Linked DNA regions of Homo sapiens: region 2 is linked to region 1. Evidence: fine-mapped expression QTL. Tissue or cell type: whole blood. Region 1 holds a variant in brackets; the other region holds the start of a gene. All regions are shown on one strand. Distances are between the middles of the regions.

Evidence for each region. PIP is the estimated chance that this variant, and not a neighbour inherited with it, causes the effect.
Region 2: PARM1 starts here. The variant in region 1 is fine-mapped to the expression of PARM1 in whole blood (INTERVAL, PIP above 0.99).

What each region holds. Positions count from the first base shown.
Region 1 is chr4:75,130,334-75,138,441 of GRCh38, reverse strand. No RefSeq gene overlaps it. Among named protein-coding and RNA genes, the nearest start is that of LINC02562, 50 kb to the right of the region's middle. The variant G/TG (reference allele first, on the strand shown) is at 3,928.
Region 2 is chr4:74,928,288-74,936,395 of GRCh38, reverse strand. PARM1 (prostate androgen-regulated mucin-like protein 1) reads right to left here and starts at 3,280. Exons shown (of 4, transcript NM_015393.4): 1 at 3,026-3,280. The coding sequence starts at 3,068. RefSeq lists an enhancer at 2,347-2,396 and silencers at 2,507-2,556, 3,137-3,446.

The DNA of each region.
Region 1 (8,108 bases):
TTATGACAATTTTGCATGTGGGGACACTGAATCAGAGTTTAAATAATTTTTATAGGTACATAGCTATAGAGTGGAAGAGCCAGGATTCTAACACAAGTCTGTTTTCCCCAGAGCCCCTGTTCTTAACATCTGTGATAGGGGTTCACAAAATTCTAGTGTGCATAGGTAGCACACGAGGATCATGTATAGAAACATGGATTTTCAGGCTTAGATATTATGAATCAGCAGGTCTTGGGTAATTTACTTTAAAATACTTCAGCATAGATTATGTAATTTGAACATGTTTGTGTGTGTTTGTTTTAATCTACACCTTTACTGTGGTTAGTTGCTTTAATCAGAAATATCCACTCCAGAGAAGTTAGCTAACATTTAATAAAAAGCCATGACCCAGAGAAATTCAATTATATTTATCTCCAGTTGACATAAAAAGTTTTGGTAATTTCACTAGTGAATGTTAGAACTAGGGATTTCTTGCCGAAATCAGTGGTTTTCATTTTTTGTAGATTTTCTGGAAATACTAGAGAGAGTCTTGGTGTCTTTGCAGAATACAGACCAGCTGGCTCGGTGATCTGTATCCTTAGGAATGGCACCCAGAGCTTTGAGTCTTCAAGGGCCTATGTTCATCTGATGATTTGGAGACTTCTTGGTCTCCTGTCTCTAACTAGATAGCAGAATCTTGCAGCTGGAGTGTGGCTTCCTTCCCATCCAATGAGATGTTCATGGAAGAGTCCATTAGAGCACTTAGAGGAATGGACACCTATAACTCCAAGGGGTTTTGACAAACTGGTGGTATGAGTGTTGAATGTTTGCTAAGAAATGCTAAGGTGTGTACCAAGATTCAGTCTGAGATTTGGTTTTAGGGGGGTTGTGGAAAGGAAACCCATAACCTTCACCTACAACTGTTGGAGGAGCCTGATATTTATTTATTTATTTATTTATCTATTTATTTATTTATTTATTTATTTTGTTTTTGATATTTATTTTTAAAACCTTGAAAATTGTGCATACCCAAGTTGGATCAGGTCAGGACTGAATTATAAGGAGCAGCTTAAGTGACTCTGATTTGAGACATGCTCTATTAACTTATATCTTCTTCTCTGTTTAAATGGAGAATGAATGAACATTTGGCAGTGGGTTGTGGGAGTGTTTCAAGCACTGGATAAGTAGCCAGATCTTCCTCCAAAAAAAAAAAAAAAAGTCATTTCTAATCTTGAGATTCAATCAATTTTAAAAAGAAATTTTATAAAAATCTTTTGATCTGGTTAATAAAAAGGAATAAAGTTTTGTGATCCTTAGGATATGCCTAAAGCCTCACAACCAATAAGATTTTCTGTGAGTGCTTCTCACTGAACCACTGCAAAGAGCCTCCATCTGTGAGTCAAGATCTTTGCAAAGTAATTTCACAAGCAAACACAATTGAGTCATACACTTTAAAAAAGAAAAAAAGCTATATTAAAGTTGTTTCAGGAAGCTACATGTATCTGTTGGAAAATAAGGGGTGTCATTAAAATGCTGTGCTTAGAGTTCTATTATTATTGTTTATACCTAAAATTATGTTAAGAATGGCACATTAAAGATTTCTTTTTTTTTTACAAATAAGCCAGGCACAGAATATTTTTTCAACACTTTAAGGATTTTCTAGAAGAAAATCGTTGCCTAACATTATTTTTGCAAAATTTCTAATGATGAAAAAACACTGGAATGTTTCTGGGAATAAATCTTATAGCTATAAATAAACATCAATTCTTAAAATATTTAAGTATATTCTTCAATACTTAGTAAGTGCAGTGAAAATAATGTGTCTTTCACATAATGGGAACAATATAAATGTTTGCTTATTGACAAACTTTTTGATTGCTATAGACCAAGTGAGGGAAGTATTAAATGTAATGAAAAGTTAAATAGGCACATAGGAATGAGATTACAAAAATAGTGTGTGAAGCTTACGAATCTTGAGAAATTAATACGGGCAGCGAAGAAACGATTTTAGCACAGAAGACAAAATCATTAAGGCAACATCTGTTCATTCCTAGATGAAAAATGACAATTGCTGAATACTGAGAGGGTCCTTGTTTTGCCTGGAAATTTGTATTGAAGCAATAAGTGGAACTAATAAGTTGGTAGTGGGGATTCTTTAAAATTTTAAAGCGACACCTTATTTTTCACAAGATTTGGTAGGTTCCATCTAATCTATCAAGCATTTCAGCACTGTGCAGCACCGAATAGGTCATGCCTATTCTTATCTGAGAGAGTGCAAATTTTATATGGCCACTGAGTTATCCAAAGAGAATTAATTATATTGTATGTAGTTTCAGTAGATGTAATGATAATATATTTGAGTTATTTGGCTATGGCAATCAATACATGAGATCTAGTTCCATCTTCACTGATTAACCTACCCCCACAACCCTGTCTCCTTTTCTCAAATACTGCTGATGATAGTGACTTTACATTGTTTTGTTACTGTTTGTTTGATGTGGCTTTCTTTAATAATATGCACTCCTTTTAAAATGAAGCACCTTGAAAAATACCCTTTTCAGGAAAAAGGTTGCTAATTTGATATAATAGACTACCCAGTTTGTTGATATTTTAACACCGATTATACTTCTGATGTTAAATAAATTACTCAATTTAGTTTATCTTGTGTATAAAAGCAGGCTGGTTTATTTGGTGACATAAAAAATAAACAACAATTTGACTGATTGTAATTTTCATTTCTTAATAAGGTGCTTGGGTTTTTCCCTTCTAAAATTGTAAGTTATATTAAAGGACTTCCTGTTTTGCACACTGCCATTCCCCAGAGGGTAGGGCATTAAGAACAAGAATAGTTTGACAATGAAAAGTGTCTGGGGAATGAGGGGGTAATTTGGGTGTATAATGTCAAGAAAATGGTAGAAATGCTGGTTAGCTGTCTTGATTTACAGTAAACAAAATACATTGTTTCATTACGCTATTTTATAGAACATTACTCGTTTATTAGTAGTCACAACCTTAATGATGAGGTAGTATTTGTTTCAAGCTTTTCTTCTTTCAAATTGTTTCTTTGTTTATGCCGTTGCATGTTATGTTTAATGTAAGCTAGGTTTGTGTCTTTTAAAATGGTATTTATAGAGACTATTTAAGTATATTACCCACTCAGCCATGGTAGCTTGACTATTCAGAGGGCCCCTCTGTTTCAAGGGCTGTTGTGAATCAAGAGCAGCTCTGATATCGCTCAGCTGTAGAACTCCTCAGGATGCTGGGGATGAACTTGTTCAACTCCATTTCACAGACGTTGAAATTGAGGATGAAAGAGGTTGAGTGACTTGGATCATGCTTGTTATGGGAAGGGCCTGAACTAGAACCTGGTCTTGTCAGTCTCAATCCAATGCTTTTTTTTTAATTAAAGTTTTTATTTTGAGATTGTTGCATATGCAGTTGTAAGAAATAATACAGAGGCCCCTTGCATCTTTTACTCAGTTTCCCCAAGTGGCAACATCTTGAAAAACTATAGTACAATATAGTACAACCAAGATATTGACATTGATATTGTCAGGTTACAGAACATTTCCACCATTAGGATGCTTCAGGCCATTCTTTTACAGCAATACTCACTTTCAACCTACCCAATTCACTTTTTCACCATTGGCAACCACTCTAATCTGTTCTCCATTTCTATAATTTTGTCATTTTATGTTGTACAAATGGAATCATACAGTATGTAACCTTTTAGATTGGCTTTTTAAACTCTGCATAATCTCTGGAGATTTGTTCTTTTTTGGGAAAGGGTCTCACTTTGTTGCTCAGGCTGGAGTGCAGTGGTGTGATCATAGCTCACTGCATCTTCCAACTCCTGGGCTTAAATGATCCTCCCACCTCCGGCTCCTGAGTAGGTGGAATGACAGGTGCATGTCAAGATGCCTGAGTAGTCTGTAAATTTTTTTTTTT[G/TG]TATAGAGAGGGTCTCACTGTGTTGCCCAGGCTGGTCTCAAACTCCTGGTTTCAAGCTGTCCTCCTGCCTTGGCTTCCCAAAGTGCTGGGATTACAGGCATGAGCCACTGTTTCTGGCTTTTACTTTGGAAATGTGTCACTGGATTATTGTGTGTATCAACAGTTTATTCCTTTTTGTTACTGGGTAGTATAGATATATCACACTAATGCTCTTTTTGTGGCATATTTCTGTTCTAATCTTGGGAAATCTTGGCCATTTCTTTCTTAACTTGGCCATTTCTTAACTTTCAAGTTAAGGAGCATAATTATGAAGGAATAATTCAATTTTGACATTTCTCATTTTGTGTCTGGAGAGACTTGGAAGAGGTGATTATAAAGATAGCAGAAATCTATGCAGTATCAAGGGTGTTTTGGTGATGCCACAGCCTCCTTTGTTTTGTGGTGAGAGTGAGATGGACTTTAGAGAGGGCCTCCAGTATGTTTTCTGAGGGATATGATTAGAAGAGGTCTCTGCTAAATACTGTGTTCATGTGAGGCAGCCTTCCCGGGGAACCAATGTCTCAGCTATTATACAGGGCAAAATGATTTCAGATCTCATTCTAGTGTCACAAAGGGGATTTGCAGGTGCCAGTTGCCATTACTGAAAGTGGAGTGCAGCCAGAAGAGAGGAATTAGCACCTGTCCACCCTGTAACCGTGCCCTGGGTTTTTAATGACCCAAAATAGTTGAGGCTTGACACTCTTAAACCCTAAAGATAGACTCATTAGAAAGACAAAATGCTCCAAGGTGAAGAAAGTATTTTAATTCTTACACTAAATTTTAGTTTGCTAAAACTAGTGGGCTGCGTGGCACTTACCCTGTGGCCACTTGCAGGTCTACTCAGTGTCAAGAAAACTTCCACATTTTCAGGACAGTCAGTTAGGAGATGGGAAGTCACAAAGCCATACCTCCCACTGCATTTATGTGTTCTAATCATTTGAAGATGACTTGAAGAACCTATGATGAAAGGAGAAAGATGTGTCCTAGGGGTTGGAATTGAAGTATTGGGAGGGTGGAGAGCAGTCATTTGAATAACTATTAGATAATAAGACAACGACTTTGGACAAATGAAACAAGTAGCAATATAACATAGTTTGCAAAATCTGGTAAACAACCTTTAAGAAAGTGGGAGTTGAACAATGAGAACACATGGACACAGGGAGGGTAACAACCTACACCGGGGCCTGTTGCAGGTGAGGGGCGATGGGAGGGACAGCATTAGGAGAAATACCTAATGTAGATGATGGGTTGATGGGTGCAGCGAACCACCATGCCACATGTGTATCTATGTAACAAACCTGCACATTCTGCACATGTGCCCCAGAACTTAAAGTATATATATATATATATATATATATATATATATATATACATATATCCCTTAATGTAAGGCGAGGTATGCATGTAGTATGAACCCTAGAATTCTTGAGAGGGAGAAAATGAAAATGTGGGGTTATGGAAAAGGGGCTTGTACAGGAGCATGATGGACTCTTGAGGCTAAGTCAGGTTAATCTCAGGCATTAGAAGGGACTAGAAGGAGCTAGAAGGAACACAGTGATTCATCTAGGTTTTTATTTTATTATTATTATTATTTTTCCTTTTCATTCCTTGTAATTTTTTTTTGTTTGTTAATTTTCTTTTTTTTTTTTAATTATACTTTAAGTTTTAGGGTACATGTGCACATTGTGCAGGTTAGTTACATATGTATACATGTGCCATGCTGGTGCGCTGCACCCACTAACTCGTCATCTAGCATTAGGTATATCTCCCAATGCTATCCCTCCCCCCTCCCCTCACCCCACCACAGTCCCCAGAGTGTGATATTCCCCTTCCTGTGTCCATGTGATTTCATTGTTCAATTCCCACCTATGAGTGAGAATATGCAGTGTTTGGTTTTTTGTTCTTGTGATAGTTTACTGAGAATGATGATTTCCAATTTCATCCATGTCCCTACAAAGGACATGAACTCATCATTTTTTATGGCTGCATAGTATTCCATGGTGTATATGTGCCACATTTTCTTAATCCAGTCTATCATTGTTGGACATTTGGGTTGGTTCCAAGTCTTTGCTATTGTGATTAATGCCGCAATAAACATACGTGTGCATGTGTCTTTATAGCAGCATGATTTATAGTCCTTTGGGTATATACCCAGTAATGGGATGGCTGGGTCAAATGGTATTTCTAGTTCTAGATCCCTGAGGAATCGCCACACTGACTTCCACAATGGTTGAACTAGTTTACAGTCCCACCAACAGTGTCAAAGTGTTCCTATTTCTCCACATCCTCTCCAGCACCTGTTGTTTCCTGACTTTTTAATGATTGCCATTCTAACTGGTGTGAGATGGTATCTCATTGTGGTTTTGATTTGCATTTCTCTGATGGCCAGTGATGATGAGCATTTTTTCATGTGTCTGTTGGCTGCATAAATGTCTTCTTTTGAGAAGTGTCTGTTCATATCCTTCACCCACTTTTTGATGGGGTTGTTTGTTTTTTTCTTGTAAATTTGTTTGAGTTCATTGTAGATTCTGGATATTAGCCCTTTGTCAGATGAGTAGGTTGCGAAAATTTTCTCCCATTTTGTAGGTTGCCTGTTCACTCTGATGGTAGTTTCTTTTGCTGTGCAGAAGCTCTTTAGTTTAATTAGATCCCATTTGTCAATTTTGTCTTTTATTGCCATTGCTTTTGGTGTTTTGGACATGAAGTCCTTGCCCATGCCTATGTCCTGAATGGTAATGCCTAGGTTTTCTTCTAGGGTTTTTATGGTTTTAGGTCTAACGTTTAAGTCTTTAATCCATCTTGAATTGATTTTTGTATAAGGTGTAAGGAAGGGATCCAGTTTCAGCTTTCTACATATGGCTAGCCAGTTTTGCCAGCACCATTTATTAAATAGGGAATCCTTTCCCCATTGCTTGTTTTTGTCAGGTTTGTCAAAGATCAGATAGTTGTAGATATGCGGCATTATTTCTGAGGGCTCTGTTCTGTTCCATTGATCTATATCTCTGTTTTGGTACCAGTACCACGCTGTTTTGGTTACTGTAGCCTTGTAGTATAGTTTGAAGTCAGGTAGTGTGATGCCTCCAGCTTTGTTCTTTTGGCTTAGGATTGCCTTGGCGATGTGGGCTCTTTTTTGGTTCCATATGAACTTTAAAGTAGTTTTTTCCAATTCTGTGAAGAAAGTCATTGATAGCTTGATGGGGATGGCATTGAATCTGTAAATTACCTTGGGCAGTATGGCCATTTTCACGATATTGATTCTTCCTACCCATGAGCATGGAATGTTCTTCCATTTGTTTGTATCCTCTTTTATTTCCTTGAGAAGTGGTTTGTAGTTCTCCTTGAAGAGGTCCTTCACATCCCTTGTAAATTGGATTCCTAGGTATTTTATTCTCTTTGAAGCAATTGTGAATGGGAGTTCACTCATGTTTTAGCTCTCTGTTTGTCTGTTGTTGGTGTATAAGAATGCTTGTGATTTTTGTACATTGATTTTGTATCCTGAGACTTTCCTGAAGTTGCTTATCAGCTTAAGGAGATTTTGGGCTGAGACAATGGGGTTTTCTAGATATACAATCATGTCGTCTGCAAACAGGGACAATTTGACTTCCTCTTTTCCTAATTGAATACCCTTTATTTCCTTCTCCTGCCTAATTGCCCTGGCCAGAACTTCCAACACTATGTTGAATAGGAGTGGTGAGAGAGGGCATCCCTGTCTTGTGCCAGTTTTCAAAGGGAATGCTTCCAGTTTTTGCCCATTCAGTATGATATTGGCTGTGGGTTTGTCATAGATAACTCTTATTATTTTGAAATACATCCCATCAATACCTAATTTATTGAGAGTTTTTAGCATGAAGGGTTGTTGAATTCTGTCAAAGGCCTTTTCTGCATCTATTGAGATAATCATGTGGTTTTTGTCTTTGGCTCTGTTTATATGCTGGATTATATTTATTGATTTGCGTATATTGAACCAGCCTTGCATCCCAGGGATGAAGCCCACTTGATCATGGTGGATAAGCTTTTTGATGTGCTGCTGGATTCGTTTTGCCAGTATTTTATTGAGGATTTTTGCATCAATGTTCATCAAGGATATTGGTCTAAAATTCTCTTTTTTGGTTGTGTCTCTGCCCGGCTTTGGTATCAGAATG
Region 2 (8,108 bases), 200 kb after region 1:
ATCCCGAGGGGAGCAGGAGAGGGATAAATGTGGAAGCTACCAGGGGCCTGCCATTCTCGTTCCCTTCTTGGTTTTGGGGATAAAGGTTGGAGGCTCTGGTTTGTATTTTAATCTGGAATCAGTACTCCAATATGCCTTATCCTGGCATAAGAAGTGTTTGAAAATGGTTTATAGAATAGACATCTAGTTTTCTACCATAATCAACCTTGAGAGAACTGAAGACCATCTAAGATTTCTCTCTCCTTTTAGAAATAGAAGTGAGGCTGGGCACAGTGGCTCACATCTGTCATCCCAGTACTTTGGATGACCAAGGTGGGAGGATCACTTACGTTCAGGAGTTCAAGACCAACCTGGGCAGCATAGGAATACCCCCCATATCTACAAAAAATAAAAAAATTTAGCTGCCTATGGTGGTGTGAACCTGTAGTCCCAGCTACTCAGGAGGTTGAGATGAGAGGATGGGGAGGCCGAGGTTGCAGTGGAACTGGAATCGCGCCATTGCACTCCAGTCTAGGTGACAGAGCTAGACCCTTTGTCTAAAAATATATAAATATATTTATATATACCCGAGTGAATACATGTAGAGATCTACCCTTGTTGGCTTGTTGACAACGCACACATATTTGCAAGTGTCCATTGTATGTGCTGGAGGAAATACTATGTATACTTTGAGAGGATTTGTTGAGCCAAAAAACAGGCCCCTGCCTAATGCTGTTCCTGGCTCAAGAAAGTATCACCTTAAGAATTTTACAGAAATATTGTTGAAGCCTATGGCTAGAGGAGGAAAATGAGAAGGAAACAGAAAAGACACAAGGCCTGGTGAAACTAACTAGAGATTTGCTAGGGGAGTTCTGGGATAAGCCCCCAAAACACATGTGTGTGCACTTTCACTTCAAGAGCCCTCATCCCTTTCTTCTTTACCAACACGTCTATTTTTTTCTTTAAAAATGATATTTTACATTCTGAAAACACCTTAAAATTAAGGTGCAAAGAATCTCATGAGGTATTTATGCCAATTTTTATATTATTTTTTCGGACGATTTATTGCAAAGTAGCTCTAACAACAAACTGACGTCTTAAAGAGATTCCTTCAAAGGCACAAACTTCAGGGGGAATGCAGTGTCCATTAGCTTCATCATTTTCAGCTTGGGATATGCATATCGAAGCATAACTAGGGAAATGAGGCAGTATGTCTTCCTGAGTCTCGAGCCTCACAGCTGGAAGGCTGTGACCATCTGGGCTCTGATCCTAATTAGTGCGTGGGGGTAGGAGTGGTGCTCAGCCGGTCCCTGGCCCACCAGTCTCCTCGCTCTAGCGGTGGGTCAAGGGTGATATTCCTCCCGGAATAGCGGAGCTAAACTGTAACGCTGAATAAAAGAAAAAAGAAAAAAAAAAAAAAGAAAAAAGAGCTTCTTGGGGTGGGGGTGGGGAAGCTACAATACACTGTTTGTTAGGGTTAATCCCGGTTTTGACAACTGCCAGAGCTGTTTAAAAAAGGAAATGATTAAATAAACAAGACAAGCCACTAAATCAAATTTGCAAACGAACCTCTCTACTGACTCACTCAAGGGTTTCTGAACCTCAAGAAAAGATTTTTGAGTGAGGAGAAGTAAAGGTACCTTCCGTGTCATTACGTAAGCATCTCCTGCTTTGAGGATTACAGGAATTACCACCCGCAGCCAGCCGGGAGCTCCGCTGCCTATTGCACCTGCCGGACCTAGGCTCTCTCATCTCAGCCCGAGGCTGGGCAGCCAAAGCCGCCTGCGAGTATTCGGGAACTGTCCGCGGACGCGTCTCCAAACCGTGCCGAGATACCAGCGAGAAAGAGGTTTTCTCAGACGGACGTTCACTAAGTAGAGAAAATACGCTATAGTTTCAAGTTGGGAAACTTTTCCTTATAACTGCATTACCCACTGTGAGCTGCCTGAAAACCGCTAGCTTCTTTTCAAGGGATTGCGACGACTCGTGTCCACAACTGTAGGAACCCGACGAACTCAGAGGGAGGATATACAGACTAAAGCACGAGTAGAATCGGTTTGCGCTATGTGACTTTGGGTCACATTTAAACTGAAAATGCCAGTGGCCGCGCAGTCGGGCTACTTTTCCCAGCAGCACCATATCCACAGCCAGTTGTCCCTTTTCGGGAGACGTTTTCTGGAAAAAATAGGTACCTGAACTCTAGATTCAAAGCGTCTTTCTGAATCTCTCCCCGGTCCCCGCCAAGCCGAGCTCAGTCATCTGGCTCCCCTCTTCCCCATCCCCGCTGCCAGAGGTCGTCGCCGTCTGTGGTCCCGAAACCCGAGAGTGGCTCCTACGAAGCCTTTCAGAGGTGGTGCAGGGGGAGGGGAGAGGATGCTAGTTTAGCCAAGTTAATAGTTTCTTCTATGGGATACGTTTTTGGGGAGTTCTGGGGCAGAAGGTAGCCTTGCTACCCCCAGTGACGATTGCGAGCCTGACCAAGGCCGGGCCGCTGCTGTTAGTGCCACATCATCCTAAGCATAACTAGGAAGGGACGCCGGAGATCAGAGACCGCCAAGACTCGAGAAAGCAAACCAGCCCCGCCAGGCGCGCAGCCGCTGCTGAAGCCTTCCCAGATGCGAACCTCCCACCCCCACTTCCCCGGCTTTTTCATCCCTTCCAGGGCCCAACGGCAACAAGAAGTCTGGTCCCGTACTTTGGCAGAGTGCGCTCCGAAACCCTGGTGAAGAAAGAGAAGCCTTGAGGCGCAGTCCGTGTTGCCCACTCTGGGTTCGAACACGCAGCTAAGACAGCCACCTGTTCTACAAAGCTGGAGTTTGTGCGGGCGCGGGCTGCGGCAGGAAGGACCCCATCGTCCCCTCCCTCAGTACGGTTCGGGACCGCCAAAGGTGCACGTCACCCCAAATCTAAGTGCGCACACACCTGCGCACTCACCCGGAGGCGCGCGGCGACTCACTGCCGGATCTCCTAGCTTCAGCCCCGACCACGCGCTAGCTACTGGGGCCCACCCCGCGACCTGCCCTTCCGGGAGGATGGCGCCAATTACCTGCAGTTAAGATGCAAAGAGCGAAGAGAGTCTTGTAGACCATGGTAGCCTGGTATTTGGTGCCCAGCCCGGGGCGGGCGGCAAGGAGTTTGCGGACTGACAGAGCGCACTGGGCGCTGGTAGCGACTCCTCTGCCGGGTGGGCTGCGGTGGGAGCCGGGAGGCGCGAACAGCTCCAGTGGAGGGCGCGAGGCAAACGAGGCGAACGCAGCGCAGCTCCGTCAGCTGCGTGCCCTCCGGTGCTCCGCGCTCTTCTGCTCCATCCCAGCCGCCCGAGCCCGGGGCCGCCTCCGCCTCCGCCGCCGCCGCCGCGCCTGCCGCTGCCAAACCCCTCCCACCCGGGCCCCGCGGCGATGACTGGGCCACCCCCTGGCCTTCCTTCTCTCAGCCCTCAGGTCCCGAGAGCCCCGGCCCAGAGCGGCCTCTGCTGGACAGTCAAGACACGAGACCCTGGGTTCAGCAAATGTTTGCAGCGCCTTGCACTGTGCTGGGAACTAGGGATGCAAAGAAATGTGAGCACATCTCTGCCCTTAGGAATCTAGCTCAGCTTTTCCTACATGAGCTTACAGCCTTTAAAAAGGTGACCTTATGCCATTTTAGGAGTTCCCTCGGAGAACCGGCACATGTTCCAAGAATGAGGACCTTCTTCATTTGTCAAAACACTTCTGCGTGTACATCATTAAACCCTCATCCACATTAAACCCGGCTGAGCTTCCTGGGGCCCGAACCAGGATGTCTGCCGCTGCATTCAGCTTCTTACTAGAAGAAAATACTGTCGGGGGGATAACTAAGCCAGACACCCTACTAGGCGTTGTTTCATGAATCCTTCTAAGAATTATTATTATTCCATTTTACAGGTGAGAAAATGAAGGCACAGAGAAGACAATGTTCTCAAGGTCGCATAACTGGTAAGAATAGTTTGTGCACTAGGCCCATAATAAAGGCTGACGTTTCCTGAGTGATTGCTATGTGCTAGGCACTGGACAACGTGCTGTTCAGGAATCAACCAAGTCATTTAGTTCTCACAACAATCCTTGGAGATTATATCCTCGTTTTCAGGGGAGAAAGTAGAAGCACAGAGAAGTTTAACTTGCCCGAGTTCACACAACTCGCAAGTAATGATAAGATGCCTGCCCAGGCACCCCGCTCAGCCTCTGTACTCTACTCCCTCTCAAGAGCCCAAAGCTTCTCCAAAGCCTACAGATTAGAACTGACCTTTCATTCAGTTCCCTCCCTGCTCTTGCTACACTTTAGGCTTGCTTAATTCTCACACTTCGATCAAAGCAGATGCCAGGTTCTCTCCCAATTCTGTTATTAATGAACCTATTGGTCCCCTAGTCACTAGAGCTGGGGCACTGCAGGAGTTAACAAGCCTTTGTAAAGAAATGATTTGCGTGGAAGGCAGCTTTCTTTTTTCTGTAATATCTTCTTCATATGCCATGGGCTCTGTTCTCACTTCTTTCTCACATACCAGAAGCTGACTCTAGGAGTCCTGAGCACCTTATCTATGGTCAATTCCTCTGCCTGACTCTATCACACTACCACTTGTAGATTTTGCTCACACTTCCACAACCAGATTAAATTTGGATCATATTTTTTTCTCTTTGTTTTGGTAAATCTAGTAATTTCTGTTGGAATGAGAAACAAAAAATACTCAGACCAAGTGCCCATCCCCTCTCCATCCTCCCTGGCCAGATAAACTGCAAATTCAATTTGTTCAGCATGTTCTCTGAATGCTTTTGACTTCAAGGCCCTTCCGGTTTCTAGGGTAATCTATGTGATTAGGAACAATTTCTGCATCTGGGTTTTGGTTGTCATGGATGCAGGGACCACACACAGATGGAGTTATGCAGCGACATTCTATCAGGCATTAGCCCCTTTAAATAGGGCAGGTTAAGTAAGTGACTCTATGGCAGAAATATAGGTTTTTGAAGACCACTTCACAGAAAAAATTTATTCAATTGAAATTCAGCAAAACTTGAAGGAGTCTTTCTGGAGTGCGAAGCATGTGCAACTCTAACCTTGATATCTAAGATAATGGTTTGGTACTCAAAGAATCATGACCCCTACACACTAATCAGTGAAAATTTCCAAAACTTTTCTATTGTACGCAGGATAGAGTTGAAATAATTTCTTTGATTAAAATAGTTCATTTTAATTGCTGATTAAAAATTTTAATTTATTAATTAATTTAGTCAGAGCATATTTAATCACTTATTTTACGCCAGCCCTTATGCTAGGCAATGGAAATACAATGGTTGTAATAGCCAGGGTAGTGTAGGTTATGCTGCTGTAACAAACCAGCCCAAAGTCTCCCAAGCTTAAGCGATAATGGTTTATTTTTTGCTCATCAAAGTCTGCTATGGATCCAGGTTACTCCTCAGAGTAGCTGTCCTCAGGATCAGTGTTGTACCGCCATATCGAAACCTGCTTTTGTTACAGTAGGTAGCTAGATAGGCATGAGTGGGGCAGCAGAGGGCTCCCCCCACACCCCACCAGGAAAGTCAGGTAACCATCATGTGATGGCCAGGCAGTTATTAACTGTCTCTCTAAAATAATAATTGGTTACAGCTGGCACGAGGGACTGACCATCTCCCCATAAATAGGGAACACATGAAACTGGTAATCAGCAGCTTCCAATAAGATCTCAGGAGGTGGGTGACTGAACTCAAGCATGTGCATTAAGATGCAAAATGGTGGAGTTTAACTGGTATATGACCTTCTGGGGGCATTAAAGCAATGCAAGACGCCAGAAGTAGACCAGCATGTAAAACCCTAAGTGCAAGGTCAAATGGGGCACTTGACGTCCAAGATGCCCTCTTAGGCCTCTTCCAACTGTGCTTTCCTTTCTTGCTGCTCTAAAGCTTTTTAATTAACTTCCACTCTTGCTCTGAAACTTGCCTCAGTCTCTTATTCTGCCTTATGCCCCTCAATTATATTCTTCCTTCCGAGGCAAGAATTGAGGTTGCTGCAGTCTCTGCCGGTGACTCAAATAACTTCCACCTCTAACAGTTTCACATCCACCTCTAACAGTTTCACATCCACTGAGTTAGGGAAAGAGAGAAGTGGAGAATTAAGTATTTAAATCTTCCACCTAAAAGTGACAATTCTGTTCATATTTTATGGGCTAAGGCAAGTCAATGGCCATGCCCAACTTCAAGAAAGCAAGAAAGCATGTTATTTTTGCGTGCTCAGATAGAGACGAGAACTCTATAGCAGGGAACATTGTGATATGTGCCACAGGGGCTAATTGTCCCTGCACCAGGAAACTTATTTTCTAGTAGTGGGGAGTTAAACATTGAATGAATAATCACAAAGACATATGCAATAACATTATATTAAATGCTACAATAATAATAATGATGAAAATTTATTAATTGTTTCAAGCATTTTATGTACAGTCATGTGTTTACATTTCTACACTCTAACTTTGTGAGATAGATACTGTAGAAGACCAGAATGTGCCACTTCAGAATATGCCTTTTCAGTATAAGCATTTGTTTGAGAAACAGCAGCTATAGGAGCAACTCTGAGAACAGAGTGGAATTACCTTTTTGTAGGGTGAATTTAAATCTATAAAGGAAATTTTCATTTGTAAAAATGTCTTCCTCTGAATTCTAGGAAGAAAAGGATGGCACTAAATTACTGGAAACTCTTATCAATGGAGAGGGCTCTGACTTAAATACGCATAACAAACTTTACCTTTGTTTGCCATGCTTTACCTGGTCACTTCCTCATAACTGCACCCCTACCCCCATACTCCTCTTTCTTTGTTTCAGCTGAAGATGATATTTAAGTTTGAATTCAAAGTCACCTCTTTGAAAATTACTAATTCCCTGACTATCTCCTGTACATATATATGAAATATACATGTTAATAACCTCGTGGGGTTTTTGTTGTTGTTAATCTGTCTTTTGTTATAGGGGATCCCAGCTTAGAACTCATAAGGGGTAGAGAGAAAAATTATCTTTTCTCCCCCCAAATACTATTATTATCCAAATGTTACAAAGTAAGAAACTGAGAAATACTTATACAGAATAAAACTTTGAAGGAAACTAAGGGATTCAATGAGATATAATAGCAGGGGAACTAGTACTCCTCAGTGGGGTCAAGGATGGAATTTGCATGTAACCCTTAGTTATGACTTACAGCAAAAGCCATTTTTTTTTTAGTAGAATTCTTAGTTCTTTTATAATACTCCACTGGGATAAAATCTCACATAAATCTACCTTTTACTGACTTTGACTCTTTTTTGATCATTGTTAAAATGAATTTTTAGTGTTGTGGACTTTTAACATTTTACCAAAAAAATTGCTCTTGGCTGACATAGATTTTTACATCCTGAATATATTATATTTTATAATTTTAGATAATACATTTTAGGTAATATAGAAGTATTGTTTCTGGATTCTTTATATCATGAGATGGTTTCATCTGGACTCTTGGCTTAAGTGAGAGAATAACTTGGCTGAGAGAGCTGCAGTGGTTAGAGGTTGGGTCCTAATCCCCTCTGCCATCTACTAACTGAGTGATTCTAATTAATTACTTGGCACCTCTATTCCTTTGTTTCTGTATCAGTCTGCTAGGGCTGCCATAACAGAACATCACCAACTAGGTGGTTTAAACAACATAAATGTATTTTTTCCATGTTATGGAAGCTGGATGTCTAAGGCCAAGGTGATAACAGTGTTCAGGCTCTTGACACCATTGCAAGCAGGAATTCAAGAATGAGTCAGAAAATAGTGACAGTAGGAGATTTATTGCAAAGTGAAAAGCATATACTCAAGAAAGGGGATTGTGGGGGTACTTAAGACAGAGTTGTTTGATGGAGTTTGGAGTTTCTGTCTTTATGGGCTTCTTTAACCAAGGGGTGGAATATTCATTAAAATTCCTGGAAAAATTTAGAGATTTCTCAGAACTGTGGTGCCACCTATTTTTTCACACCAAATATGGGTGTTCTCAGGACTGTCATGGCACTGGTGGGTATGTAATTGATAATGTTAACAATAATATAACGAGGTCCTAGGAGAAATCTAGGTGAAATCCAGTGCCATGTTGGATCCAGTTGGTCTTAGCCAGCTGGG